4 separate regions of the Homo sapiens genome follow, and regions 1, 3 and 4 are each linked to region 2. Evidence: fine-mapped expression QTL. A gene starts in region 2. Each other region holds a variant in brackets. All regions are shown on one strand. Distances are from middle to middle. Region 1 overlaps PECR (peroxisomal trans-2-enoyl-CoA reductase). Region 2 holds the start of PECR (peroxisomal trans-2-enoyl-CoA reductase). Region 3 has its middle 20 kb from the start of MREG. Region 4 has its middle 12 kb from the start of MREG.

The links.
Region 1: its variant is fine-mapped to the expression of PECR in whole blood (INTERVAL, PIP above 0.99). The same link has a PIP of 0.9 or more in blood mononuclear cells.
Region 3: its variant is fine-mapped to the expression of PECR in whole blood (TOPMed, PIP above 0.99).
Region 4: its variant is fine-mapped to the expression of PECR in whole blood (INTERVAL, PIP 0.93).

The regions. Positions count from the first base shown.
Region 1 is chr2:216,037,224-216,045,459 of GRCh38, reverse strand. It overlaps PECR (peroxisomal trans-2-enoyl-CoA reductase), which reads left to right. Exons shown (of 8, transcript NM_018441.6): 7 at 1,445-1,556; 8 at 6,100-7,072. The coding sequence ends at 6,185. Among named protein-coding and RNA genes, the nearest start is that of MREG, 28 kb to the right of the region's middle. The variant A/G (reference allele first, on the strand shown) is at 4,153.
Region 2 is chr2:216,078,224-216,086,459 of GRCh38, reverse strand. PECR (peroxisomal trans-2-enoyl-CoA reductase) reads left to right here and starts at 4,651. Exons shown (of 8, transcript NM_018441.6): 1 at 4,651-4,842. The coding sequence starts at 4,719. TMEM169 (transmembrane protein 169) reads right to left here and starts at 4,541. Exons shown (of 3, transcript NM_001142311.2): 1 at 4,481-4,541. RefSeq lists enhancers at 1,696-1,765, 4,890-4,939, 4,970-5,049 and a silencer at 4,440-4,699.
Region 3 is chr2:216,030,354-216,036,709 of GRCh38, reverse strand. It overlaps a transcript of MREG not described here and a transcript of PECR not described here. Among named protein-coding and RNA genes, the nearest start is that of MREG, 20 kb to the right of the region's middle. RefSeq lists an enhancer at 4,226-4,455. The variant G/T (reference allele first, on the strand shown) is at 3,294.
Region 4 is chr2:216,021,583-216,029,818 of GRCh38, reverse strand. It overlaps a transcript of MREG not described here and a transcript of PECR not described here. Among named protein-coding and RNA genes, the nearest start is that of MREG, 12 kb to the right of the region's middle. The variant G/A (reference allele first, on the strand shown) is at 2,096.

The sequences.
Region 1 (8,236 bases), 41 kb after region 2:
TGAGATGATTTTCTTCATCCCTCGGAGCATCCAGGATTAATGAGATATTTTACATTATTTTTCCCATACTCAGTCTTCAAAATCCAGTGTGTGTTCTATACTTACAGCACGTCTCAATTTGGACCAGTCATACTGAAAGTGTTTGAGTAGGCGACTATGTCTAATGGCCTCGTTTTAGATAGTGCAGCACTGTACTAGCTGCTGGGAATACAAGGATGGAGAGAAGGCTTGGCTGCTCTCCAAGCTCTTAGAGTCTCAAGGAGGTATAGCCTTGTGAATATAGGACCAGGACTGGGATGAGGCAAGCAAGGCATGGACACAAAATTTAAGGACCCACTCCCTCTGAGGGAAGATTTTGCACTTGTGCAAACCTGAGAGTGAATACCTCCTTAAATCTTGCACCCTCGACACCTTATTTGCCTCACCCTAGTCCTGGCCCTGCCTGGGGGCCTTTTAAACTGCAGATTCTGGGACCCCAACCCCAGAGCTTACAATTGCAATGATCCTGGAAGGATCTAGGAATCTGAAGTCTCAGTAAGCATCCCTAGTGATTCTAATGCAGGTGTTTTGGATCATCACCCTTTGAGAAACTCTGCTTCTTCCCACAGCCTCAAGTGAGAGCTCCTTTACAAGTCAGTGAAATAACTTCCTTCTGTTTGGGTTGGGAGTAGATGTTGCTGAACTCATCAGTTCCCTATTTGAATTTTTAAGGAGTACAGTGGGAGTCTGAAGTGCCTTTGGTTTATTTTTATTTTTATTTTTTTGAAATGGAGTCTCACTCTGCCACCCAAGCTGGAATGTAGTGGTGCAGTCTTGGCTCACTGCAACCTCTTAGGCCCACGCAATGCTCCCACCTCAGCCTCCTAAGGAGCTGGGACCACAGGTGCCCGCCACTGTGCCTGGCTAAGTTTTTGAAGTTCCTCTTGTAGAGAGCTCCTTTGAATGTGTGTTGCTGGGCTTTTGGCCTGACAGGACCGCAGACTGAACAAACCAGAATGCTAGTTTATTGCTAAACAGACACATTGACTATTTCAGGGACCAAAACATAAAAGGCACGAGGTAGTGATGGAAAATGGGGTTGTGGAGGACAATGAAAGGCATGGAAGGAAGTGAATTGTTTGAAATGGGAAAGAGCAGAGCTGAAGCACTGAGTTCACTTATGGCTTCTTGACGTCATGTAGCTTGCTTGACATCGTCTAAGGCTCCCTCATACCTTGCCACCTTTACCCTAGTCACCTACCTGATTTCGGTGATGCTCAGGTAGAAAGGGAAATTGTAGGAAAAGGAAGTTGTCTATGTACTGTGAGGTTGTGGTGCACATGCACACACTGTTGGATTCATGTTACAATCATGGGCTTTGAGATGCCTTTACTGGGGAATGTGAGGCGGTTAGAAATGGGGAGTATTTGCTTTTACCTATGCACATGTGTGTTTCTGTTTCCAGGTCTCCTCTGTGGTCTGCTTCCTACTGTCTCCTGCAGCTTCCTTCATCACTGGACAGTCGGTGGATGTGGATGGGGGCCGGAGTCTCTATACTCACTCGTATGAGGTACCAGGTGAGCAGCTGAGGAATGAGCAGTCACCAGCTTTATGCTGTGTCATGTTCAGGGGTTTAAAATTTATTATAAGTAGTTACTTAAGAGATGAGGGTGCTCTCTTATAGAACATCAAAATGTACAAAATGTTTATATTCATGATGTGATTTTTTTAATGAAATATTCCTAGTCACAGAAAATATCTAACTATCTATATTATGGAACTGAGCTTTTTGTGCATGCATAGGTTGGTGGAATTTGAACCCTGAAAAATATTCTCAGTATATGTTTCGAAAGAGGAGACAGAAAAGAGGCAAGAGCATGCTATAGTTTTAAAGATTTAATTCCATTTTGTTCCTCCAGTAAATGGCTTACATATCTGAGCAGAAGAATCAGGCCTGCTAGGTGGGGTGGGGTGCTATGGTGCTATTTTGTGCTCTCTTTGAGATATATATTGAATGAAGGCATATGAAATTTCTGTATTCATCATTTTTGATGTACAAAAACAGAAATTTGGCCGGGTATGGTGGCTCATGCCTGTAATCCCAGCACTTTGGGAGGCTGAGGCAAGTGGATCACTTGAGGTCAGGAGATAGAGACCAGCCTGGTTAACACAGTGAAACCCCGTCTCTACTAAAAATACAAAAAAATTAGCCAGGCTTGGTGGCGGGTGCCTGTAGTCCCAGCTACTTGGGAGGCTGAGGCAGGAGAATGGTGTGAACCCGGGAGGCGGAGGTTGCAGTGAGCCGAGATTGTGCCACTGCACTCTAGCCTGGGCGACAGAGTGAGACTCTTATCTCAAAAAAAAATATATATATATACGCATACATATATATGTATGTGTATATATATACATACATATATACGTATGTGTATATATATATACACATACATATATACGTATGTGTATATATATATACACATATACGTATGTATATATATATACACATATACGTATGTGTATATATATATACACATATACGTATGTATATATATAACAGTTAGTCGGGTGTGGTGGCGGGCACCTGTAGTCTCAGCTACTTGGGAGGCTGAGGTAGGAGAATCACGTAAACCCAGGAGGCGGAGATTGCAGTGAGCCAAGATCATGCCACTGCACTCCAGCTTGGGAGATAAACCAAGACTCTGTCTCAAGAAAAAAAACCAGAAGTTTTATAAGTTTAAATCAAATATTGATATTACATGCAAATGCCTTTATGTGTGTGTGTGTCTCATGACTAGATAACAGAACTTTGCGGTTTGAAGGGTCCTAAAAGATCACAAAGTCCAGTATCCTAGTTTTATAAACAACAAAACAAATCCACAGACGTTAAAAGGTTTATCTAAGCTAATAACTCTAAATCACTCCAAAAATGTAGTAAAGGGTATAAAATGCAAATGTATTGAATTTCTGTTGTTAAAGATAATTAAGTGGCTACTAGCAAATTAATAGATGGTTGATGTAACCCAGGTGAATCTGAATTTCATATCAAGGACCCAGGGTCTACGTACTCTTTCAGGTGCTGACAGTCTGATCAAGGCTTAAGGCCTTTTTTGCGTTAATAAATGATTGGTGTATGTGAGAGGCGAGCAAAAACTCAAACTGGTTTTCCTCTGCTCTCACAACACAACAACCATTAGCACGGAAGACTTCTGTGACCAGTTGTTTGGGGTTACTTCCCCCGCACAGCAACCAAGCAAGCAGTTCTGCAGCAGACCCCAGCTGGGCGTCCTCTCATTCAGTTCTGACACTGGAGATAGGATCAGATCCCACAGGCTGAGGGCTCAGTCCCACAGGATGCCCCCTGCTTTGGACACCATCACAAGTCTGGGCCTCTAAAACTTCTGACTGACTAGCTTCAAGTTGGGGTTCCCACGACCCCCTCTTTGGGTTGGAGTAATTTGCTAGAGCAGCTCACACAACTCAGGAAAACACTTCGATTTACTGGTTTATGATAAAGGATATTACAGGAGATACAGCCGAAGGGGTGCACAGGGCAAGGCATGTGAGAAGGGGCACGTAGCTTCTGTGTCCTTTTTGGCCCCACCACCTGCCAGGAACCTTCATGTGTTCAGCTATCTGGAAGCTCTTGAACCCAGTCCTTTGGGTTTTTATGGAGGCTTCATTACATAGGCATGGTTGATTAAACCATCAGCCACTGGTGATCAACTTAACCTTCAGCCCCTCTTACCTCCCCAGAGGTTGTGGGGTGGGTATGGGCTGAAGGTCCCAACCCTGTAATCATGCCTTGGTCTGTCTGGTGACCAGCCCCTATACTGAAGCTAACTAGGGGCTGCCAGCCATCAGTCAATCATTAACATATAAGAACACATCACTTTGGCGAGTCTAGGATATTAGGAGTTGTATGCGGGAGATGGGGTTGAAGACCAAATATATGTTTCACAATATCACAGTATAGAACTTTAATTTTACTTATTATTTTCCCCTCCCACATGTATTTCATTACTAATAACATCAATGTGGTGATGTCCATAGGATACTGTAGTTTTAAGGGTCTTGGTTGGAAAGAAGAAATACCTACATGGTTTTGCCATATTGTTTTCTGAAAAAAATTCCAAGTAGTGAGGGTGGAGAGAATCTTTCCACTTCTCTCACAGT[A/G]GACTTCAGTCACTATTTCTTATCGCAGGTTGCACTGTTTTACCTTTAGAAGGGAAAGAAATTTCAAATAGCTTCTTCCTTAGGCCTTCAGTGACATGATTTTCTTTTGTAATTCTAACACTTTTTATCATTAAAAATATTTTTTTCAGTTTTTGAGGAAAGCGGGTACATCTATCTTTTAAGAATATACTGCCCCCCGAATAATGAGATTATTCAGCCTTTCACTATGGTGTTTTCTTTTAAGATTGGCAGCTCCAAGGTGAGAATGCCTAAGATGGAAACTTGGCTCTACCCTTATTAGCCGTATGATTGTGAGAAAGTTAATTTCTATAAGCCTCTATTTTGTTCCTGTATGCAGGGACACATACAGTATTTATTTCATAGAGCTGTTGGGAGGATTAAATTAGATAAGGGACTTTTTCTTTTCTTTTTTTTTGAGACAGAGTCTCACTCTTGTTGCCCAGGCTGGAGTGCAGTGACATGATTTCGGCTCACTGCAATCTCTGCCTCCCAGGTTCAAGCAATTCTCCTGCCTCAGGATCCAGAGTAGCTGGGATTACAGGTGCCCGACACTATGCCCCACTAATTTTTTTGTAGTTTTAGTAGAGATGGAGTTTCACTATGTTGGCCAGGCTAGTCTCGAACTCCTGACCTCAGGTGATCCGCCTGCCTCGGCCTCCCAAAGTGCTGGGATTACAGGCATGAGCCACTGTGCCTGGCCTTAGATAATGCACATTTAAATCCCTATGTCAGGGGCTGGGCACCATGGCTCACACCTGTAATCTCAGCACTTTGGGAGGCAAAGGTGGGCCAATTGCTTGATCCCAGGAATTCAAGACCAGCCTGGGCAACCTGGCAAAACTCCGTCTCAACAAAACATTTAAAAAATTAGCCTGGCATGGTGGCATGTGCCTGTACTTGGGAGGCTTAGGTGGGAGGATCACTGGAGCCCGGGAAGTCGAGGTTGCAGTGAGCCATGATTGCACAACTGCACTCCAGCCTGGCTGACAGAGCAAGACCCTGTCTCAAAAAATAAAAATTAAAAAAATAAAGTCATTTGTCGAATTGGATGCTTTTAGTCACAACTCAAAATGGGCTCATCAGTAAAGGAATTCGCTGGCACATAACTGAAAAACAGGTAAGACTTGACTTAGTAGCTCACTGATCTCATCAAGGACAAGTTTTTCCCCTGTTTCCTGTTTTTGCCTCCATGGTGTTGGCTCTATCTTAAGGCAGGCTCTCCTCATTGCAGGATGGCTGCCTGCTGTTTCTATGTGTAAGGCTGATACTTCTGTGTTCATACCCAGATGCACAGAGAGAGGGCTGGAGGAGTGACTTTGTTCCAGAATTTCTAACAAAATTCTGAGATCCACTCTATATTCGATCAACTTATGCAAATGTCCATTTCCAACCAATAACTGTGGCGGGGTTATAGTGCACTGACTGACTTAGCTTAGACCACATGCCTTGGTGCCAAGCTTCCCTGGCACCTTCTAGATCGTTAAATGGAAACAAGCTGTTGGAAAGAAGAGATGGGGACCTGGATGCTGGAGAGGCAAGTAGCAGTGCCTGGTACAAAGTAAGGACACTATTTTTAAATTGTGATTATTAAGGAGACACTATTTATTGACGATCCACAGTATGCGAAGCACTGCACACATGGTGTCATATTTAACCCTCACAACTTTAAAAGGTAGATATTGTTGTATCCTTTAATAGAGGAGGAAACTGAGGCTCAGGAAGAGACATGTGCCCAAATTCAGGAAAGCTAACGTGTGGCAGACCTGAGATTCAAATTGAAGTCTTTTCTCAAATGTTTGCCCTAAGGATTTATTTTTTGGTGCTGAGAAAATGTGTGAACCAGGGAAATTAACAAGAGGATTTGGTGGGAGTGAAGAGGGCAAATGAGATTTGCAAGTGACAGGAGGCTTTCCACTTCTTTAACAGATCATGACAACTGGCCCAAGGGAGCAGGGGACCTTTCTGTTGTCAAAAAGATGAAGGAGACCTTTAAGGAGAAAGCTAAGCTCTGAGCTGAGGAAACAAGGTGTCCTCCATCCCCCAGTGCCTTCACATCTTGAGGATATGCTTCTGTACTTTTTAAAAGCTTATAGTTGGTATGGAAAACATTTTTCTTATTTTTAAGTGTTATTAATTATATCTATGGAAAAACTATTCCTGAAATATATACAGTCTTATGTCCCAATCAGAGTCTTTTAACCTATGATTTAAAAATGTATAAGTAACAGAAATTAACATATTTTAATGACTTTACTTTTTATTTCTAAGAAAAGTATTTGAAAAATGGAATAATTTTAAATCAATGATAATTCTAGGGATCATGAACTCCCAGAAGATTTTATTATTTAATTGTAAAGGTAGAGGCCAGACGCAGTGGCTCACGCCTGTAATTCCAGCACTTTGGGAGGCCGAGGTAGGCGGGTCAGTTGAGGTCAGGAGTTCAAGACCAGGCTGGCCAACATGGTAAAACCCTGTCTCTACTGAAAAACAACAAAAACAAAAACACAAATTAGTCGGGTGTGGTGGCACACACCTGTAGTCCCAGGTACTTGGGAGGCTGAGGCAGGAGGATCGCTTGAACCCAGGAAGCAGAGGTTGCAGTGAGCTGAGATCATGCTACTGCAGTCCAGCCTGGGCTACAGAGTGAGACTGCATCTCAAAAAAAACCCAAAAAACAAAAACAAACAACAACAACAAAATTATAAAGGTAGAAAATAAACCTAAATTGTGTCGTAATTAAGATTATTAAAATTAGAATTATACAATGACTTATTTTTGGTGGCAAATACTTTAGGAGCAATAATGCCTTATGGTAATTATTGATGTATAGTTTCTTTTGTTTATGAAGTCAAATTTGTATAAATTCTCTTAATTCAAAGAAAAAGTTTTATGTGATTTATTTTTGGCAGTGCCTGATTTGTGTCTTGATTTTCTGTCCAAAGTATTCCCTTTTTTCCATGTATCTCCTTTTGTAGGCAAAAACAAAATTTCAGTTGCATGCAAATGTATTAGGGTTCCATATTCTGCCTTCCGTGGCTCCAGTCTGATAGTTAGACCCTTATTGAAGAAATGCCTTTAGCAGATTGAATATGTTCATTCTTTGTCTTAATCAAAGTTCTTTCAAGTATCTGAGGTGAAGTAGCTATTTTCTTTTTTTTATCATTAACACTCACTTTATTTATTTATTTATTTATTTATTTTTAAGATGGAGTCTCACTCTGTCACCCAGGCTGGAGTGCAGTAGCATAATCTCGGCTCACCACAACCTCCACCTCCTGGGTTCAAGTGATTCTGCTGCTTCAGCCTCCTGCGTAGCTGGGATGACAGGTGTGCACCACCACGCCCGGCCAATTTTTGTATTTTTAGTAGAGATGGTGTTTCACCATATTGGCCAGGCTGGTCTTGATCTCCTGACCTTAAGTGATCTGCCCGCTTTGGCCTCCCAAATTGCTGGGATTACAGGTGAGAGCCACCACGCCCGGCCTGTCATTTACCCTCATTTTAAAGTGTGTGAGTTACCAAGCTCTGGGGTTTGGGACCCAGAATCTGCAGCTTTCTCATGCTCCCAAGCAGGGCTAGCACGAGGGAGAGGCTAATGAGGTGCCCAGGGTGCAGCATTTAAGGAGCTATTCTCCATTGTCAGGTTTGTGCCAGTGCAGAATTGCCCCTGAGAGTGAGTGTGTCCTTCAATTTTGTGCTCATACTAATAATGTGGGAAGATCAGAAAGCTTCATTTTCCTCCCAGATAGCCCTTTAACAGTGGCCTTCTGGAACTGATAATATCATAACAACTGAGAATTACAAACCATGTTAGAGGGAAAAGTGGCCCTAATACAGGTTGGTGGAGAAGATGGAAAAGGCAGGGCTTGCTTTCACATGACCTGTGTTAATGACTGCCATCGACTCCTTAAATCTCCATAGCGTTGCCAGTTATTTCTGCTTAAGGGACAGAACCTGCCTATGTAGCACTAAACTTAGGTACAACTGCTTATTAGAGCTTCTTCTTAGACTATCACTGGACAGCTGGTCATTATCTATATTTTTAGAATTATGAATTTATTAT
Region 2 (8,236 bases):
AATAGACTTGAGAGAAGAGAGAGGACTTTGTTCTTTTCTCTGGCAGTTAAGCTGTGCCCATCTTCCACTTCCACTTCCAGTCTAAAGATTATTAACAGGCTGGTCACGGTGGCTCATGCCTGTAATTCCAGCACTTAGGGAGGCCGAGGCAGGTGGATCACTTGAGATCAGGAGTTTGAGACCAACTTGGCCAACATGGTGAAACCCCCTCTACTAAAAATACAAAAATTAGCCAGGCATGGTGGCACACACCTGTAATCTCAGCTACTCCGGAGGCTGAGGTAGGAGAATCGCTTGAACCCGGGAGGCAGAGGTTGCAGTGAGCCAAGATCACACCACCGCACTCCAGCCGGGGCAACAGAGTGAGACTCTGCCTCAGAAAAAAAAAAAGATTCTTACAAATGTGATATTACAGAGTGTTAGCTTCAATCAACCATTAGCTCTGTACTCTTGGTCATTGTAGGAGGGAAAACAGGTTTTTAAGAACATGCTCATACTCTGGAACTCGTGCTTAGAATAACTGCTTTTAAGCCACTCTTGAAAAAAATTATCCAGATAATTCTTTTTTTGTTTTTGTTTTTTTTTTTTGAGATGGAGTTTCACTCTTGTTGCCTTGGCTGGAGTGCAATGGCGTGATCTCAGCTCACCACAACTTCTGCCTCCTGGGTTTAAGCGATTCTCCTGCCTCAGCCTTCTGAGAAGCTGGGATTACAGGCATGCACAACCATGCCCAGTTAATTTTGTATTTTTTAGTAGAGAAGGGGTTTCTCCATGTTGGTCAGGCTGGTCTCGAACTCCCAACCTCAGGTGATCCGCCCGCCTTGGCCTCCCAAAGTGCTGGGATTACAGGCGTGAGCCACTGCTCCCGGCCCAGATAATTCTTAAATTCATCCACCCAACTTTCCCATCTCCACTGCTTCCCCTCTGGTCTAGGAGGCCACTGTCTCTTAACTGTGGTTCTAAAAAAAATGCTCCTATCTTCCAGCTTCCACTCTTGCTGCCTTCCAATCAATTCCTCACTCAGCAGTAAGCAACATCTTTTACTTAATTTTTTTAATTTTTTGAGACAGAGTCTCACTCTGTCACCCAGGCTGGACTGCAGTGGCACAATCTCAGCTTCCTGCAACCCCCACCTCCCCCACCTGATTCTCCTACCGAGTAGATGAGATTACAGGCGTGTGCCACCACACCCGGCTAATTTTTGTATTTTTAGTAGAGATGGGGTTTCACCTCCCAAAGTGCTGGGATTCCAGGCATGAGCCACCCAGCCAGAAACATCTTTTTAAAACATAAAGAAAATCAGATGGTCAGGCGTGGCAGCGCGCACCTGTCGTCTCAGCTTCTCGGAAGGCTGAGGCAGGAGAATTGTTTGAACCTGGGAGGCAGAGGCTGCAGTGAGCCGAGATCGCTGCCACTGCACTCCAGCCTGGGATACAGAGCCAGACTCCATGTCAAATAAATAAATAAAAATAAAAAAGAAAATCAGGCTGTTTTCTGCTTAAAATCCTCCTGTAACTTCCTACTGTTATACATGTGGAAGTCCATGTGGCCTAAGGACCTCCCCATCCTGCCACCCCATCTGTACCACCATAGTAGGGGTACTATGCTCCAATCACACTGGCTGTGTATTTCTTCCTCAAGAGCACCAAATGCTTCCAAATGCTTGAGGTCTTCTTAACTGCTGTCTATCTTGCTGCTCTGCTGCTCCACCCCGCCTCTTCCTGTGCCCGTTTTTGTTTTTTTGAGTCCTTGTTCAAATGTTTCCTCCTCTGAGCCCTTCTTGACACCCGAACTAAAAACTTGACTCCCTGCTCTGCCTCTCATTATTCTTTATCACAACAGCTTGTTTCCTGTGTAAGGCTTACCAACATTTGTCATTATTTATTTTTCTTTTACTTATTTATTGCATAGCTCTTCTACTAGACTTCAAGCCCTATGAAGTGGTACCATAGAAGTAGGCCAACAAATAGATGCTCGATAAATCTTTTTAAGTGACTGGGTGAAGTGGTAGCAACTCAGGAGTAGCTTATTTTTTGTGAAAGCCTGAGACTAAGGAGAAGTTTAATAAAAAGACATCAATAAGCTCCTTTATATGCCTTGTTATGGCACAATTGCTAGGTAGTTTTGCTTCAAGGTAGGGGCAGGACCAGATGCTTCACTGACATTCTCTCAGCACTGAGATTCTGGGAGTCTAAATGTCGAGAATCCCACAAGCCCCTGTCAGTCTGAGCTAGCAGCTGCTTTGCAGAGGGGAGAAAATAAAGTTACCAGGCAGATGGGGTGGGGGAGGGGTGGGAAGCTGAAGGCAGTCATTGCTAATGGGGTATGACAGAGCTGTGGGGAGAGGTTCGGGGGTGTGGGAGGACCTTGGCCACAGGAATGCCTTTTTCCCCAGGACAAAGAGGGCAGTGACGCAGAGCACAGGGAAGAGCAGCATTTGATTCAACCAAAGGAGTGGTCAGTGCAGCATGGCGTGGTTGCCTTCGGAAGAGATGCCTCAACCAGAGGCAGAACTAAAATTTCAAAACAAAGAGCTTCCAAGCAGCAGATCTATTGCTCTGCTTCCAGGCCTTTTGGCCTGGAACTTAGCGGATTAGTGGACTTTCAAACCCTGACAGAGGTCAGAGGCAGAGGCAAAGAGATCATGCCTCCTAATTTTAAACAAAAGATCGCTTGAAGAGACCCCAAAGCTCTCTTAATTGCAGGTTCTGCCTGGATCATGAAAAATCGCCTTCTGACTGTTCATCCTGCAACTTCCTTGCAGCTGAGGAATGGCACCTTGTCATCCTCAGTAGGCATAACCGGTTTGCAGGCCCCAGTCCCTGTTTCACTGGAAGACATCAGAATCCCACTCTCAGTCCGCTCAGCAGCCACACGGAAGCTGCAGCACAGCCAGCTTCCCACTGACCCACCCTGGCACACCTCTAAGAATCTATAGGTCCAGACCAGGGCATAAATCATGTTAAGTTATATCTTCAATAAAGTTATCATTTAAAAGAATTTAAAGTGTCCCCACCCACAAGAAAGAAAGTCTGGACTTCTCTTGAATAAGATACCCCTCAGAACTGAATCAATATTTCTTTTCCTTAAAAAAAAACACCTTGTCATTGGGATCAAACCAAGAGGAGTTATATGTTTCTGCAACAACACTTTGAGCTTTCCTGTTTGAATTTACTTTGTTTTAAAGGAGGTGATGGCGTTGTAATTTTAAAAATTTGGTCCTAACTACAGAATTGACTTAAGTAGTAGAGTTAAGTGATTCCTGGATAAACTATCTAGCAAATGGTAACCAGGAGATTTATTCCTTTCTTTAACGAGTGTAGATTTGAATCTGTCAGCAACAAAGATAGAGGGAGAAGTGATTCTAAAAAGAGATCAGAGAAGGACAAGAGGATGGAGCAACAGGGAAGTGTAGCTGTCCAACAAGAACTGCAGCCTCGCTGGTGGGTGGGACCTGGTGGAGGAAGTGATGGTCTGATTCCTCTGTCAACCAGACCCATTTCCAATTGGCTTTGTGAATCCTAGGTGGTAGGTCCAACAAAAGGATGATGGCATTTATTTGCCTTTATATTATTTTAATACCTGTCCGGGGAAAATGCAACACTCTGACAACAGCCTTAGAAATAGCATCCCATCTGGATTGTTAAGACCACAGCAACTGGCACATTCGACCAAGTTCTTAGGGTGAAGTCTCAGTAGGCCAGTCCAGGTGTAATCTCACTCTGGTGGGTTCAGAGCGGGAAGCAAGATGAAAAATAAGGAGCAGATCTGAATAATAAATCACTGTTACTGGGCACCATAACACAGACGAGAAATTTTCCCCATCCTCAGCGGGCTCACCCTCCTGCACAAGGAATGAACTACAGGACATGATCTCAAACACCTACAGATGCATCTTGCAGGAAGCGTGCACCCTTCAAGGAAAGATCCTCTTCTGGACTCGCTATGCAGCTCAGCTGAAATGGATCAGGTCTCAAACCTGGTAAAGATGATCTTTCCCCTTGATTCTTGGGTGGGGAGTGGGAGGTGAGACGGAGGTGGGCCTGAGTTTATTTTTTCAAATCGTTTATTCTCTTGGTTCTGTGGAAAACTGCAACCGCATCTCCTCTTCCCCTTCACTCTCTTTCCCGGGCTCCCTCCCGAAGGATGAAAGGATCTGAAAGCCGCATTTCTCCCCCTCAGCTAAGCCTGCCCTTTCTCCCCTTCCCAGCCAGCGGCACACAGCACCTGGAGCCACAGCATCGCCGACGTCCGACCCCGGCAGGCGGGCGCAGCGAGGGCGCCGAGCAGCAGCCTTTCTTTTTCCAGCTGCACTGGAGATTTAATTTTAATTAATCGTGAGAGCTTCAGCCCTGAGGATTGAATTTTTGAAATAGAGCACACCCTGCTTGTTTCTTTCTTCTTCTTTTTTTTTTTTTGCATTTCCCTTCCACCCTCCCCAATGGCATCGAAATTTAAAGAAACGAACGAGCAGTCTCACCCACACCTGCCCAGGGACCGACGCTGGCGGAGGTTGCGGACAGCCGGCGGGGAGCGGTTCTGCTCCGGGAGGATGCGGCTTTGCCGCGGCCGGCGGGCGGGGCGGGGCCGGGCCGGGGAGGGTGCGGGGTTCTGGTGGTCACGTGGGCTCGAGCACCGCCCTGTCCGCCCGCCCGCCTCGAATGTCCCTGAGACCCAGAAGGGCCTGCGCTCAGCTGCTCTGGCACCCCGCTGCAGGGATGGCCTCCTGGGCTAAGGGCAGGAGCTACCTGGCGCCTGGTTTGCTGCAGGGCCAAGTGGCCATCGTCACCGGCGGGGCCACGGGCATCGGAAAAGCCATCGTGAAGGAGCTCCTGGAGCTGGGTACGTGAGCGGGCCGCTGGTGCAGAGAGGTGGCTGTGGTGACCTGGGGTAACCTGGAGACGGGAGCCAGGAGCTCTCGGCGGGGCTGAGGGAGTGTGGAGCTGCAGAGCAAAGACGGGGCAGGTGTGGGCGAAATTACGACCACCAGGGAGACAGAAGAGAGCAGCTCTTCCTAAGGAATTGTGGAGCCACTCGTTAAAAACTGAAGAGACCACTCAGGCCAAAGAGACTGTGCCCCAGGTAGGCAGTAAGAAGAGCAGTGAAACATGCTGTGCAATTAGTTTTATATTCAGATTTAAAATTAATCCATTCTATATGCTTAATGTGAGTGATTAGGAAACGTGGGAAGACTTCATTTAACTGGAAAAAGTTGTGAACATAGTGAGTCTCTCATAGTATCTTCTCACATCTCTTAACCACAGCAAGGAAATATGCTGAATATTTACCTTAACTTGGGTGAAGGAAGGCCTTTGTAAACACATAAGTGAGGGAATAAACCACAAAGGAGAACATAAATCAATCTACCTGTATGAAAGTGTAAATCCTCATTGAATTAAAAAAATATATAAAGTTTAAAGGCATATGAAGAAAAATATTTGCAACATAAGATAAATTGTTTGTTGGTTTTGAGATAGGGTCTCACTCTGTTGCCTACGCTGGTCTCGAACACCTGGGTTCAAGGGATCCTCCTGCCTTGCCTCTGAGTCCTAAAGTTTTGGGATTACAGGCTGAGCCACTAGATTCGGCCAACAGCCTTATACATAAAGAGCTCTTACAAATAAAGAAAAAATCCAACACACTGATAGAAAAATTAGACTAATGGTATGGACTAAGCGTTCCAAAAGAAGAACTACAGACAGGCAAGAAACATATGAAAAAATAATCAACTTTATTGGTAATAAAATATGAAACAGTAAGATTTAACTTTTCTAACAAAATTTTGAAATGTTGGGAAAAATTAAAGTGTTGATGCAGGAATGAGAAGGCAGGAATGTAAATTATTACAAACTTTCTGGAAGGCAATTTGGAAAAAAAGATCCAAAAACCTTCACAATGTTTATGCTCTATGACAGTAATTCCTTTTTCAGGAATTTAAGGAAACGGAGTCAAGCAAAGATTTTCATGCAAGGATGTAGTCTTGAGTAGTGAAAAAATGGAAATTACCTAAAAATCCAATATAAGGAAAATAGTTAAATCAATAACAATGAAATATAATGCTTCCGTTTAAATATCTTGCTATTGGTCCTGGCGCAGTGGCTCACGCCTGTAATTCCAGCACTTTGAGAGGCCGAGGCGGGCAGATAACCTGAGGTCAGGAGTTTGAGACCAGCCTGGCCAACATGGTGAAACTCCATTTCTACTAAAAATACAAACCAGGCATGGTGGCGTACACCTGTAGTCCCAGCTACTTGGGAGGTTGAGGCGCAAGAATCGCTTGAACCTGGGAGGCAGAGGTTGCAATGAGCTGACGTCAAGCCACTGCACTCCAGCCTGGGCAACAGAGCGAGATTCCATCTCAATAAATAAATAAATATCTTGCTATTGAAGACTTACTTGGAGAAATGCATACCATATTATTGGGAAAAGTAGAATTCTAAACCTAATAGCATTCCAATTTTACTTTTTTTTTTTTTTTGAGATGGAGTTTCGCTCTTGTTGCCCAGGCTGGAGTGCAGTGGCGCCATCTTGGCTCACTGCAACCTCCGCCTCCTGGGTTCAAGCGATTCTCCTGCCTCAGCCTCCCGAGTAGTTGGGATTACAGGCACGCACTACCTTGCTAGGCTAATTTTGTATTTTTAGTAGAGATGGGGTTTCTATATGTTGGTCAGGCTGGTCTCCAACTCCCGACCTCAGGTGATCCGCCCGCCTCGGCCTCCCAAAGTACTGGGATTACAGGCGTAAGCCACCGTGCCCGGCCCAATTTTACTTTTAATAAAATATATACATGCAGGGCCGGGCACGGTGGCTCATGCCTGTAATCCCAGCACTTTGGGAGGCCGAGGCGGGCAGAGCACAAGGTCAAGAGTTCGAGACTAGCCTGGGAAAACATGGTGAAACCTCGTCTCTACTAAGAATACAAAAATTAGCCAGGCATGGTGGCGTGTGCCTGTAATCCCAGCTACTCAGGAGGCTGAGGCAGGAGAATGGCGTGAACCCGGGAGGCAGAGGTTTCAGTGAGCCAAGATCGTGCCGCTGCACTCCAGCCTGGGCGACAGAGCAAGACTCAGTATCAAAAAAAAAAAAAAGTATTACATATGCAAAAATGGACTGGAAGGAAGTTTATAAGATTTTTAGCCATTTTTCTGAAAATAATGTTAATTATGAGTAATTAAAATTGTCTTCGTCTTTTAAATATTTTTTAATGAACATCTAAATTATCTTTGGTTACGACTGTGTTTCCAACATCTGGCACAGTATGAACTAAAAAAAAAAAATCTATGTTTTTAGTTAAAAAAAAAAAAAAAAGCAAAAACATTTCCTAGTAAGGCCATGATGTAACCTCATCACCATTACTGCCCAGTTTATTCTCAACACCAAGCTCTATCCTCTTTCAGGAATATCTGTAAGAAAATCAGAATCAGTTATCAATTCATGCATAGGTCAGATACTAGGCTTCTCAGCAGATTCGTAGGACCCTAGTCCACTTTGAAGGATTTTTAATAGATTTTTATGTATTTGAACTTTCATCCTGTTGCATAAGTGTGCTATTTGAACTTTCATCCTGTTGCATAAGTGTGCTATTTGAACTTTCATCCTGTTGCATAAATATGCATTGGCCAAAAACTACACCCCTGGAATAAGGTGATAGACTATATTTTTCTTACCACAAACTAAAACATTAGGACATTGGTCTTGTAATCTTTTGGAAGACATGAATCTGTCTGAGATTCTGATGAAAGTGGTGGCGTGTCTTTTGAGAAAAAGACATCATATACTTAAAAATATATATACACAATTATTTTGTTGTATTGGAAATGGATTTCCTTCAGTGAAAGAATATTAAAAATCTTTTTCTTTTTTTTTTTTTTTGAGATGGAGTTTCGCTCTGTCGCCCAGGCTGGAGTACAGTGGCGCAATCTCGGCTCACTGCAACCTCCACCTCCCAGGTTCAAGCAATTCTCTGCCTCAGCCTCCTGAGCAGTATTTTTAATAGAGACGGGGTTTTACCACGTTGGCCAGGCTGGTCTTGAACTCCTGACCTTATGATCCATCCCCCTTGACCTCCCAAAGTGCTGTGAGCCACCGGGCCTGGCCATAAAAATCATTTTTATAATTACTTTTTCCTCTTTATTTTTTTATGCCAGAATCAATGGCTATTTCCACGACATTGTCATATTTTTACTAGAGATGGGGTTTTGGCATGTTGGCCAGGCTGGTCTTGAACTCGGACCTC
Region 3 (6,356 bases), 49 kb after region 2:
ATGCTGCAAGGCTGACCCCTGTAAAAGAGAGGGGAGAGAGGATTGGGCAGGAGGCATCTCAGATTGCAGCAAAGTGATGCTTTCTTAAGACAGGCTTGCTGAAAGTATGCATTGACATTTACAGTGGCCCACAGGAATACCAGCAGGCGCTCAGTGGGTCATGTGGATTCTCTACAGTGTAAAAGTAACTCTCTCTCCTCCTGCTGGTGCCTGGACAAAGGGAGTTCAGAGATCAGTTCCAGCATCAGTCATAGTTTGTAGCTCACTGGGACCTTATGTCCCCTGGCAAGAGCCTCCCTCTTTGGCACCAGGATTTCCAGTGCTGCTATTCTCCTTAAATCCTGCAGCAGATCATTGGGAATGATGGAATGCAGGGCCACTCCCAGTTTCATCTACCGGATCCCAGACATGGTCCCAAACCTACTGGGGACATGCATCTTTGAAGACAGCAAGCACTCCATCCTGGCCCTTCAGCTGGGTCTTGGTTGTTCAAGCCCTCTATGAGGCTGGCTGCCTATGGATGGTGCGGGGTGTGGATACACAGTGGTTCCACAACCAGGGGCTCACTCTTTCGTCTCCTTCACTGGGAGGTGAGTCACCTGATTGGATGCTATGCCCCATGGGATTCCATGCCTATGGTTCAGGCTTTCTATAGCCCCCAGATAGTCATGGTGTCTGAGTCCCTGCAGGCAGGAAAGACAAACTCTTGCCTGGAAGAGGTATCTGTCACTATGAGGAGTGACGCAGAAACCACACAGCAATTTGAACAGGGCAAGTTAAAAGTGAAGAGTGATTATCACAGCAGATTGGAGTAGTGAAGGACTGGCTAGTAGGAAGTAAAAAGAACTTGAACATGAGAATAGCAGATATCAGGAGTAGCCTGCACCACTAGGACTAAGACTGAGAGCTCAAAGAAGAACCTTGGCTGGGCGCAGTGACTCATGCCTGGAATCCCGGCACTTTGGGAGGCTGAGGTGGGCAGATCATCTGAGATCAGGAGTTTGAGACCAGCCTGGCCAACATGGTGAAACCCCGTCTCTATGAAAAATACAAAAAATTAGCCGGCCTGGTGGCGGGCGTCTGTAGTCCCAGCTACTAGTGAAGCTAAGGCAGGAGAATCACTTGAACCTGAGGGCGGAGATTGCAGTGAGCCAAGATTGCACCATTGCACTCCAGCCTAGGTGACAGAGTAAGACCCTGTCTCGAAAAAAAAAAAAAAAAGAAGAGCCCTCCATAGCACCCCTGGGGCTGACACCCAGATTGAGTAGGGAGGGCATGGCTGTGAATCAGTGGAGGGCAGAGAAGTCACTGTGGTGCTCTGCTGGTGGAACTTGCTAGAAACCTGCCCTCTGGCATCCTGGGGAAAACTGTACAGAGAAGTGTCCTACCAGAGGCCTCTGATGCAAAACCCCCTGAGGGAGGTGCTGGGAAGCTGGTGCTCCTTAGCACTCCTGTGAAGCAGTCTGCACTGCACGGGTCAGGAAGCAAAACCCTCTTCCTCCTCCAATGTCTCTCCATCACCCTCTCCCAACAAAGCTTCAGAGCCCGCTGGCTCAGGGGAACAACTTAGAGGACCCAGATCCATTTTCTCAGAACAGAGGAGCAATTACATCTGGAGCCTGCCACTTGTCGACTGGCCGTCCTGTGGCCCATTGGTCTCCTTAAAGAGCAATGCCACTTCAGGGCTCAGCAATGATCTGTGTTGCAGGAAGGTTGGACATGCAGGGGCAGTGACAGCTCCGTTGACCTTGGTTAACAGGGAGTCCATGCTAATGGGCCGTCTACAGCCTGCCTCCATCACTGTGCCTGTCACACCAGTTCTGGGCTGGCCGGTGATGAAGTCCAGCTATCAACTGGCTGAGTTTTCTTGACTGCTTGGTTGTTCTACACCTCTTCCATGAGGATTGCATTCTGGGGACATTAACGTGGGAGGCGGAAATGACACTCCCCTGGAGCGCCCACTCCCCTGGGCTCATCCGTAATCCTCTACCCCAGACCTTGTTTCCTGGCCACTGTATATATTCTCATCTCGGGCCACTTTTCATTCCATTGTAGATACCAGTTGCACTCTCACACGCTGCCCATTAGAAAGATTTTCCATCTCCACCATCACGGGGCCACTCCTGAATAGAGCTATAATGAAGTTCTGACAACTGTGAAGGAGAGAGAGGAGGAAGGGAATTGGGTAGGAAAAAAAAATATCACAGACTGCAGTACAGTCCAAGAAAGAGAGGGCCAGGCAGATGGGAAGTCCTCAAGGCAAAGTCACCCATGGGAACCACCCTTGTCCCAAGGGAATAGCCTAGATGGACAGCAGGGCTGTGCTTGTCACAGGCCAGGAGCAGCCCGAGGGGAAGGCAGTGATGGATGGAGAGGGGCAGCAGCTGGGACCCACAGCCAATCAATTTTGTTTCCTGTAGCAGGAGGTCTAAGGGGTTTCTTTTCATGGCTGCCATTTGGCTATTCTGCAACTGTAAAACTTCACCATTGATCTCATTCATTTTTTAACATGACCTGGGGCTTGGCTCAAAGCAGTGCCACCTTGTGGTTAGTTTTGGAACACCAGCCTGTCTGGGCAGTGGCTTCTTAGGATGCAAGACCTGCTTGCAAAGCTTCAACTTGAGCTTTAGTTTCTTCCTTTGGTATTTCTTCTGCACTCCTTGTTTACAAGGATTTCATTTCAGCAAAGGAGCCATCTATTGAAATAAGATCAACCAGCGGGAAGATTCTAAACCATATTCAGGAAAGGTATGCTACGTCAAAACTAGCGATTACTGAGCCCATGTTTTAAGACAGCCAAATCTCTAGGCTATTTTGGATCTTATCCTGGACAACACTATTTCTGATTTGTATGGTAACCAAGGCCCTCTGTGGGTTAGTTTCAGCTTTCAAGCAGCCGTGGCTCAGTCTAGTGAGAGGCAGTCCTGCGTTCTGCCTGGTGGGAGTCAGAGTCTTAAGATTTGCCAAGTCCTGATGCCATCAGCATTCACATTGCCTTACAGAGGTCTCCTCCCCACTCCAAGATAGGTAGGCCCACCACCTGTTCTTGTCTGCAGCCTTCAGACTTGTTCTCCTTGAGGTCTTCAGTTCCGCAATAGGAAATATCTTGAAATCCCCTTCTTGACTGAGGCCACCCTTTGCTGAGGTTACTGACCTTTCTGCTTGCTGCTTCCTGGCATCCTGTTTCTCTCTGCTTATTTTGCCCTTTTCTGCCAGTTCCTTCAGGGCTCTTGTTGGATTCTCTCTTTCCATGAAGTACAGATTTTAGAGTGCACTGGAGTCCAACTGCTTGG[G/T]TTCGAATCCCAGCTTCTACCACTTACTCGCTCTTGTGAAGGCATTGAGACAGCGGAGGAATTTGTATGCAAAATTACTGGTCATTTTATTCAACGTGATAATGGCATGGCAGTTGTTATTATTTTTTATTTAAGAAATGTTGATTTCTAGGATTTACTTTAAAATATTCCAACTTAAAAAAATGGAGGAAGGGGGGTTGGTGAAATGAGATTGGCAACATGGTAATAATTGTCTAAGCTGGGTGGCAGATACATTATACATTATCTGTCTGCAGCTATATTATACATTATATGGTTAATTCTACTAGTCTCTCAATCTTGGGTAAGTTTAGAAGTTCCCCAACTAAAAGGTGTAAAGGTTTAAAATGTGTAAAATGAAAATGGCCTCATGAATTATGAATGAATTATTTGTATTCAAATAATTGTGGTTGGTTGTGGAACACCAGCCCGTCTGAGCAGTGCCTTCTTAGGATTCAAGACCTGGTTGCAAAGCTTCAACTTGAGCTTTAGTTTTTTGCTTTGGTATTTCTTCTGCACTCCTTGTTTACAAGGATTTCATTTCAGCAAAGAAGGCATCTATTGAAATAAGACCAACCAGCAGGAAGATTCTAAACCGTATTCAAGAAAGGTATGCTACATCAAAACTAGCAATTATTGAGCCCAAAATGAATTATTTGGATGGGGGTAACATGGGGAAGAGTGAGCTGACTACATATAAAATTTACTGGGGAGAAACAGGAGGGAGTTTGCACTGAGCCTCCTGTAGTTTATGGTGGTTCATGAGTGTGGCAGAGAGAGTGGAAGACCAGGTCCCAAATAGAATATATGTTTGATGGTGTAAAGCTATTGCCTTCTGACCTGGATTCTGCTCTGCAGGCCCTAGGAAGACCCCTGTACCCCTGGTCAGCCTCCCATGCTGGGTTAGCATTACCAGTTAGTCAGCTCTAGCATAAGCCAACTGGGTCAACGGAGGGTTGCAAGAAATGGACAATGTCATCCAATTATTCTATAGCATTGTTGTACCTGAGTTCATATGCTTTGAGTGGGGAAATTATATCCAGTTGGTAAATTTGGAAAAAAACTCAAACAAATCAGCAAAGTAAAAACAATATTCCTTGTTTCTCTTGCATATTTTGGACCATTTGGCTTTTGTTTTCATTTCTCTGGACTGAGTTACAAGTTTAGTCAGAGTTTGTAGTTCTAAGTATGACTCAACAGAGTCAGCTTTTTCAAATGCAAATGATTATCATGGACTTAAATAGCAAGGATTTGAAGAAAAAGAGTCATTTCTGTAAGTGATTCACAGTAGATGTAAGTTAGAATTTCTTACCCTGTAATTTTACCTTCTGCATGAAAAGCTGTCTATCAAAGGCTATTTTGTTAGATGTCTGGCTTCCTGTTCTCAGATGAACCAAGAAGAGAGGAACAGCCTATTTCTGGTTTTACTGAAGCCTTTTAAAAATCCTTGATGATTTAAGAAATACAAAAATACGGAGAAGTAGAGAGGTTCAATTAGAGTTTATAGTAAAAGATGAGGAGGAAGATAAAGTCCTCAGGTAGGTAAGACTTGCTGCGAGATTTAGCTGTGAGACATTGAATCTGGATTAGTTTCAATGGGATTGATTGTGAAGTGGAGGTAGGCTGGTATGGACATTAGGGGAATTGGGGTAAATGGATGCTTTTATCCAATTCTTTTCATTTCCCTTTCTTTCTTTCTTTCTTTCTCTTTCTTTCTTTCTTTCTTTCTTTCTTTCTTTCTTTCTTTCTTTTCTTCTTCCTTCCTTCCTTGTTCCTTTCTTTCTTTTCTTCCTTCTTTCCTTCTTTTCTTTCCTTCTTTCTTTCCTTCCTTCCTTCCCTCCCTCCCTCTTTCCTTCCTTCCTTCTTTCTTTTCTTTTCCCTTCCTTCCTTTCTCTCTTTCTTTCTCTTTCTTTCTTTCTTTCTCTTTCTTTCTTTCTTTCTCTCTTTCTTTCTTTTTCTTTCTTTCTTTTCTTTCTTTCTTCCTTTCTTCCTTTCTTCCTTTCTCACTCTGTTGCCCAGGCTGCAGTGCAGTGGTACAATCTCAGCTCACTGCAACCTCTGCCTCTTGGCTTGAAGCAATTCTCCTGTCTCAGCCTCCCAAGTAGCTGGGTTTACAGGCGCCCACCACCATGCCCAGCTAATTTTTGTATTTTTAGTAGAGATGAGGTTTCACCGTGTTGGCCAGGCTGGTCTCGAACTCCTGACCTCAGGTGATCTGCCTGCCTCAGCCTCCCAAACTGCTGGGATTATAGGCGTGAACCACCATGTCTGGCCTATGCAACTCTTTCTAACGCGTTGTTACCATTTTACTTGGAGGAATGAAACAGAAGACAGATATTTCAGTGAGATACAGAGCAGATGTTTTGATGAGCAAGCAAATGAGAGAGAGAGAGCAGGGACAGAGTGTGTGTGTGTGTGTGTGTGTGTGTGTGTGTGTGTGTGAGAGAGAGAGAGAGAGAGAGAGAGAGAGAATGGGCCTCATAGTGGGCTTGTGTGTTCAAATTGGAATGCCGAAATAAATTGCCCACAGAATTAATTAAACTATGGAATCAAAACATCTGTAATCCTAGCACTTTGGAAGGCCAAGGCAGGCAGATCACCTGAGGTCAAGAGTTCAAGACCAGCCTGGCCAACATGGTGAAACCTTCTCTCTACTAAAAAAAAAAAAAGAAAGAAAGAAATACAAAAATTAGCCAGTTGTGGTGGTGCATGCTAATAATCCCAGCTACTTAGCAGGCTGAGGCACAAGAATCGCTTGAACCTGGGGGCGGAGGTTGCAGTGAGCTGAGATTGTGCCACTACACTCCAGCTTGGGTGACAGGGCGAGACCCCGTCTCAAAAAAAAAAATTGCAAAATATTTTGGGTAACAATAGCTAGCATTTATTAGGTGATTACTATATGCCTGACACTGCTAAGCCCTTTCCATGCATTATCTCATTTTAGCCTTACAAAAACTCTGTGAGGTAGTTTCATTATTACCAGCATTTTACAGTTGAGGAAACTGGCATGAACAGGTCAAGAAACTTGTTCAAGATCTCAGCACA
Region 4 (8,236 bases), 57 kb after region 2:
CTTTTCCTCTGAATCCCTGTCAAAAACAAATCTAAAACTTTGATTTGCTGTGCAACTTTGCCTGAAGGGAAATACTGGACTATTCTGGCCCTAGGCATTTTCAGCCATGCTGGGAGTTTTGTGTTAGTCTAGGCTGTGTATTTCAGCTTCTGGCGAGTTTGTGAGCATGACTTAGCATCCTTGTATTTTGAGAACTCTGGAAAGAGGGATAACAAGTTTGTGTTTCTAGTTCTTCAAGCCCAAGGGCCAGCCTGGAGGCAGGGGGAGGTGCATAAGCACCTTCTGCCTTGTGTTTATCATTTTGCCTTTGTCGTCCTAACTCAGCAGCCTCAATCCTTCTTTTGAGATGGAGTCTCACTCTCTCGCCAGGCGGAGTGCAGTGGCGTGATCTCAGCTCACTGCAACCTCTACCTCCCAGGTTCAAGCAATTCGCCTGCCTCAGCCTCCTGAGTAGCTGGGACTACAGAAGCGCGCCACCACGCCCAGCTAATTTTTGTATTTTTAATAGAGACAGGGTTTCACCATGTTGGCGACGATGGTCTCAATCTCTTGACCTCGTGATCTGCCTGCCTCAGCCTCCCAAAGTGCTGGGATTACAGGCGTGAGCCACCACGCCTGGCCAGCCTCAATCCTTCTTTACATCTGCTGCCATCAAGCTGCTTTCATCCTTTTATTTTACAGGAAATTATTTATTTCCTTTTAAATAAATAAATAAAGATGAATATAACATCTTTTTTATTGTACTGGTATTTATTTTGGAATTGCTACTTGTAAGTGCTCTGGTCAGAAATTTGTGTATCTTGAGTGGTCTGCACTTAACTCCATATTCCAATGGGGGGAAAACCAAAACTGTGTCTCTCTTTTTCTCTCTCAGAGAAAAAGCCTTATTTTTTTCTTCCTTTTTATGTTCTTTTTCTTTATTGTGGTGTAACTAATATATATAACATAAATTTTGCCATTTTAATGATTTTAAGTGTGCAATTCCTACTGTTGTTATAGACAATTACAGAATTGTCTGTAATTGGTAGAATTCAAATTTCTCAAACAGCAAGATAAATTCAAATATGCATTACCTTAACACTATACAAATTCGAATTCCCAAAATCCAAGTATGTTTGAGAAAATATCTAGAGTACAGTGAGAAAAAATGGAATTAAATAAATACACAATTACTGGAAATCTATGTCAGCTATCACACATTAAAATCCTGCCTAGAAATATCAAATGGAATTTTTTCCATTGATCTGTATATATTTTCAGATTATCTGGGTTTTTTTTTTTTTTTTTTTTTGAGATGGAGTCTTGCTGTGTTGCCCAGGCTGGAGTGCAGTGGCGCGATCTCGGCTCACTGCAAGCTCCGCCTCCCGGGTTCATGACATTCTCCTGCCTCCGCCTCCCGAGTAGCTGGGACTACAGGTGCCCGCCACCACGCCCAGCTAATTTTTTGTATTTTTAGTAGTGACGGGCTTTCACCGTGTTAGCCAGGATCTCCTGACCTCGTGATCTCGATCTCCTGACCTCGTGATCCATCTGCCTCAGCCTCCCAAAGTGCTGGGATTACAGGCGTGAGCCACCGTGCCCGGCCTATCTGGGTATTTTGAGCAAGTTCGTGAAAGACATCTCTTTCAATGGTTTGCAACCATACCACACTATACATGTCATTTATTTCCACTTAAAGCCTATGTTTTACATTATATTTACATGAAGCATTATTTGGTTTTAGTGTAGAAGTCCAAACTCTTGTATGGAAGTCAAAATGCCCTGCCTCAAATTCTAAAATTTTCCTTGTGAAGTAACTGTATTTACATAGAAAAATCAGAAAACTATAATGTTGAGAATTAAACATTAAAATTTCAAGTTTTATTAAATAATTGACTTTAAGTGTATTTTGAAATTTAGTGTCTTTGAAAATTTATTCGACATTTTCAGATTTAGAATGCTTTCAGAAAAACAATGCAACTTGTGAATGACTTTTTATCACAGAGGGTGGGGGAAGGGAGAGTTGGCTTGACTCTTGTTCAGAATGGACATTTTTGATATTAGGCAAATTTTAAACTGACACTTTCTGTTTCTTTCCTTCTTTCAAGGTCCTAGT[G/A]TCTTAACTACCTCATGCCTTTTTCTTTTTTGAGACAGATTCTTGTTCTGTCACCGAGGCTGGAATGCAGTGGTGTGATCTTGGCTCACTGCAACCTCTGCTTCCTAGGTTCAAGTGACTCTCATGCCTCAACCTCCCAAGTAGCTGGGATTACAGGCATGTGCCACCATGCCCAGCTAATTTTTGTATTTTTAGTAGAGATGGGGGTTTCACCATGTTGGCCAGGCTGGTCTCGAACTCCTGGCCTCGAATGATCTTCCCACCTTGGCTTCCCAAAGTGCTGGGATTATAGGGGTGAGCCACTGCACCTGGGTACCTTGTGGCTTTTAGACTATTATTCTTACTTCAAAGTTAAATTTCTCTTAGAGAGCTTCGAACTCTACTGGGTAATGGTGGTGAAATGGTGGTGGCACAGCATTATCTGTTTAAAGATAGTTCAATTCACATATTTTTTAGCTTCCAACAAGTATATTCACACCATTGTTTTGTCTTTCTGTCACCAAACACCAAATGTATTACAGCAAAATATTCCTATACCACCGTTCACATTTTACCAATAAGAGATGATTGATTTCATCAAGTATCTTTGAATTGTTTGGAGGGTGTCTTTGCAAACGGATAATTATTTTGGAGACCCTGAAATCTCTAAACATCATTTTTATTTCAAGAAACTTTAAAGAGTATATGATCATAACACTTCAAACTTCTTTTGAAGGAAAATATTCTTTACATGTAGACAGAAGTTATCTCTCATGTTTAAAGTACAGATTTACATAATTTGGCTATCCAGAGCCTACTACATGGATAGGATGCTTGATTTTAAGTACAGATAGTTTTACCTGATTTGCCTTATGTGATGTAAGTTTACTCTGAAGACAGAGTAACATTTTAGTAATTCCTAGTTATTAAAAAATTAAGGTTCTTACAGTAGAGCATTAATTTTCATAAAGTGGGCTGTTCCCAGGGAAGAGATTTTTTGTGTTTGAGTGTGTGTGTGTGTGTATGTTTTACCCCATTTTATTTAATTGAGGTGAAATTGACATAATATAAAATTAACCAGTTTAGCCAGTTGTGGTGGCTCAAGCCTGTAATCCCAGCACTTTGTGAGGCAGAGGCGGGTGGATTGCTGGAGCTCAGGAGTTCAAGACCAGCCTGGGCAACATGGTGAAACCCCATGTCTACAAAAAATAAAAAAATTAGCTGGGCATGGTGGCGCATGCCTGTAGTCACAGCTACTCAGGAAGCTGAGACGGGAGGATCGCTGGACCCTGGGAAGGTTGCAATGAGCCTAGATGGTGCCACTGCACTCCAGCCTGGGCAACAGAGTGAGACACTGTCTCCAAAAATAAATAAATAAATAAATAAATAAACACAATGGAAGTAACCATTTTAAAATGAATGATCCAGTGGCATTCAGCACATTCACAATGTTGTGTAATCATCATCTTTGTCCAGTTTCAAAACGTTTTCATCATCCCAGAAAGAAACTTTATATACATTAAGCAGTTGTTCTTCATATTCTGTCCCCCACCCCTGTCCCCAGCAGCCATCAGCTGGAGTTATGTCTCTCTATGGATATTTAATGTATATTGAATCATATAATGTGTGACCTTTTGTGTCTGGCTTTTTTCACTTATCATAATGTTTTTGAGGGTCATCCACATTGTAGCATATGTCAGTACTTCTAGGGAAGAGTTTTCATCATGTTTATGTGGGTGAGACTGCTTCTACTTGTGGACAATTTCCTGAACCTTATTTCTAGAATGTTCCCTCCAAAGGGCTGAAGGCTTAAGTGTTCATGCCTGGAGGACTTCATCTTATGTTAAAGAAATCTGATAAAAGAATTCCTGGCATTTTGAGAGGAAGGAAATCCTGAGCTTGTGTGACTGCCCACACGGATGGATTTCGGTGCAGGGATTGCCGAGCAGTGGCTGCTGAGATTCACGGGCTCTAGATCCTCCCTCCGGAAGGAAGGAGCTGCTGGAAGTGTTGCCCGACACGGCCCTAGCTGTCAGCCCATTTCTGGGACAGCCTCTGCTGAAGAGGGCTGCCTCGGCTAAGGCCATGTTCCTTTCCCAGGTAGGCCTCATCCAAAGACTGATTGTCATGGAGGGGACAGAAAGGGCCAGTTCTCGCTTACTGACTGACTCAGAGCAGCTCTGAATTTTCATTCTGTCTTTAGAACTCCCCATAGGGTTGACTGAGGCCCAATCAGTTCCTTTGTGCCCTTCTTTTCCACAGGTGTTGGTTCTATGCACACTCATAATAAATCTCCTGTATGCTAAATTCCATCTCAGAGTTAGCTTTCCTGGGAAGCTAATTGGCAGTACCAGATTTTCTGCCAGTTAGAAGGAAGGAAGGTCTGCACCTCCTCTAAGTTGAGAAGCTTTGCTTTTGAGCTACTGGGCTGTCTGTGGGTAGTAGAGGTCTTCTTTCTTAGTTTTACAATTTTTGTCCTGTCGAGATCTTTAAATCAACCTCTTCTGGGTATCAGTGGGGTGGCAGCTAAGGATTTTGCCTTTATTAATGAGTTTTGCATTACTACAAAACCATTCTCCTATGTTGCCATAGAGAAAACATAAACATTAAAATGAGATGTGCATTTTCATGCATTCTCATGCTTTTCAGGGATGTCACAGTGCCAGGAATCATGAAAGGGATACAAACTGTTATGCCAGTTCATCTTTATAATACATTTTCTTTCTTTCTTCCTTTCCTTTCCTTTTCCTTTCCTTTTCCTTTTCCTTTTTCCTTTCCTTTCCTTTCCTTTCCCTTCCTTTCCCTTCCTTTCCGTTCCTTTTTTTTTTCCTTTCCCTTCCTTTCCCTTCCTTTTTTTTTTTTGAGACAGAGTCTTGCTCCGTCGCCCAGGCTGGAGTGCAATGGCGTGATCTCGGCTTACTGCAACTTCTGCCTCCCTGGTTCAAGCAATTCTTCTGCCTCGGCCTCCCAAGTAGTTGGGATTACAGGGGTGAGCCACCATGCCCAGCTGATTTTTTTTTCTTTTGAATTTTTAGTAGAGATGGGGTTTCACCATGTTGGCCAACCTGGTCTTGAACTCCTAACCTCAGGTGATCCACCCGCCTCGGCCTCCCAAAATGCTGGGATTATAGGCATGAGCCACCACACCCAGCCAATATATTTTCTATAGGCAAGAAACCGTATTTGTTTAACAACAATTGGACAGGTTCTGCTCTCCCTTGGACTGAGGAGTACTTTGATAAGTCATTTGGCTTAGGGACAAAAGAGAGGGCACGGGGCGTCCTTTTTTTTTTTTGAGACTGAGTCTCACTCTGTCACCCAGGTTGGAGTGCAGTGGTGTGATCTATGCCTGGCTAATTTTTGTATTTTTAGTTGAGATGGGATTTTGCCATGTTGACCAGGCTGGTCTTGAACTTCTGACTTCAGGTGATCTGCCTGCCTCAGTCTCCCAAAGTGCTGGGATTACAAGTCTGAGCTACCGTGCCTGGCCAGCACCTGGTCTTCTTATGGGGTACATAGGAAAGATGTGAGTGATAGGGAGGGGTGGCCCAGTTTAAATTCCCTACCTGAAGTGACAAGACCTTTCTAAATTGAAAAGAGCTCAAGGAGAGAAGACCCTGAAAGGCTCGGCATGGCAAGGGAGAGTGGAGCTTAGAGGCATCCAGTTTCAGCTCCACAAAGTGATTCAAAGGGGTACTCATGGCATATACTTGAAAGGGCCCTCTACTTTGGTCAAGCAAAATATTTAATATTAAGCATTTATCAGTTGGAGAGGCTGGCCAGGTGTGGTGGCTCACACCTGTAATCCCAGCACTTTGGCAGGCCAAGATGGGCAGATCACTTCAGGTCAGGAGTTTGAGACCAGCCTGGCCAACATGGTGAAACCGTGTCTCTACTAAATGTATAAAAATTAACTGGGCATGGTCGTGGGTGCCTGTAATCCCAGCTACTCAGGAGGCTGGGGCAGGAGAATCGCTTCAACCCTGGAGGCAGAGGTTGCAGTGAGACAAGGTTGTGCCACTGCACTCCAGCCTGGGCAACAGAGTGAGACTCTAACACACACACACACTCAGAGAAATAAAATGTAAAAACAAGAAGTTTTAATGCTTCATTTAAATTGCTTCCCTTATATTATTTAAGAAATATATCTAGTGGCCTATACACTTTCCATGGTTTTCAGGCTAATAAATCAAATACCAATGCTTAATAAGATGAAATGAAATAGTAATACAATAATCAAAGCTATTTGGCACATGGTAGCCAAGAAAAGAGAGGATTTACTTATTGCTCAATTTAGCAGTGCCCTAACAGGTTTAGAGTTTAGTTTACAGCTAGTTTAAATCTCCCACTTAAATATTACTATGTCCCTTTAAGCTCTAGGTTCATACAGGCATTGTGGCTACAGCAGCTTTCCATCTGTTGAGTAAAAGAAAGCTTTAGAACCTATTTGAGATCCTTAGCCCCATCTCCAAAGAGACTGCAGTGAATTTACAATTGGATGCCAGGAGGTGGCAGCACAGAGGATTATAGGAAGGTTTGTATATAACCTTTGTGGGGAAGTCTAAGGTTTGTATATAACCTTTGTCGGGGAGGTCCACCTGCTGTCTTTACTTTGGTAGAACTTGTCCGGGAGAGTTGCAGGGTTCTGGCCTGTCGATGTATCTCTTGAGTGTTGTGGAGAAAGAAACCATATAAAGGAATGGTGAACTAAAAACACGAATTTAAAGGCATAAATTCGGTTATCTTTAACACTCAGATGGGTAGGATCTGGGCTTAAAGTTGAGGCAAGCCTCCGGTCGCCTTTCATAGCAAATGTGAATGATGCTCAGGTTTTCTCCTACTACAGTTTTTGATGCATATTTTCTCCTATTTTGCAACTTCGAGTCACCTTGCATATAGCAAGTGCTTAATAAATGCTTCTTAGAAACTCTGCTTCTGCTTCTTAGAGTTTAATTGAATTAGGAAGCACACCGATGATAGCTGGGTCTAGGCTTATGTTTAATTTTGGTTAGGTATAATATGGAGAGACTTTGGAGAACACAGAAAACTTGGAATAGTAGGGGGCTTGTCTTCCGGAGGTAGGAAGAGGTTGAATTCCAAATCTCATCTCTGGGGCTGAGAATTGAGACTGTTCTGGGCATCTGGAAAGTGTTTGTTATGGCAGGAGAATTAGCTGTGACAACAGAGTTCAATATAGGAGTATAGTTAGAGATGGAGATATAATTAAAGTGGGAATATTGTTAGACGTAGCAGTATAATTAACTATGGGAGACTAGAGATGACAACATAGTTAGCTATAAGAATCTACTTAGAGATTGCAGCATAGTTAATCATGGGAAATATGGGGGTGAGGTAGGGAAGAGCACATGGTAGGAACTGAAGGATGGGTGACTCGAGGCATAGATGAATACAGAACATTTGAGTTCCATAATTTTCTATTTTTGGCTCTGGATAGTACTCTGAGGATGAGTACTGTTATTATTATTATTTTTTGAGACAGAGTTTTGCTCTTGTCACCCAGGCTGGAACACAGTGGCACTATCTCAGCTCACTGCAACCTCCACCTCCCAAGTTCAAGTGATTCTCCTGTCTCAGCCTCCCAAGTAGTTGGGATTACAGGTGCCAGCCAGCCACCACACCCAGCTAATTTTTCTAATTTTTGTCTTTTTAGCAGAGACGGAGTTTCACCATGTTGGCCAGGCTGGCCTTGAACTCCTGACCTCAGGTGATCCACCTGCCTCAGCCTCCCAATGTGTTGGGAGTATAGGCCTGAGGCACCACAGCCGGCCAAGTACTGTTTGTTTTTCATCTTTGCATTCCACAAGAGGTTGAGCTCAGTGCCATGCTTACACAGTTGATAATAAATACTTGTTGAGTTGAATCCTTTCAGATGGTCACAGTTGGCAATGGAAGGTGATGGGGTCGGATCTGACTAAAGTATGAATACTTAACAATAATTGCAGCTAACGTTTACGCAGTGCTTCCCATTTCCCATGAAATTGTACTAAGGGCTTTCTGTGTTATTTCACCCAATCCTGACAGCAGCCACAGGGAAGCACTGTTATGCCAAAGACCATACTCTAAACAACCCTGCCAGTGGTTCATAAATTTGACGTGCCTCAGAATTCCCAAGCCTCTGGAAAAGGGGTGACTAGGGTGAGA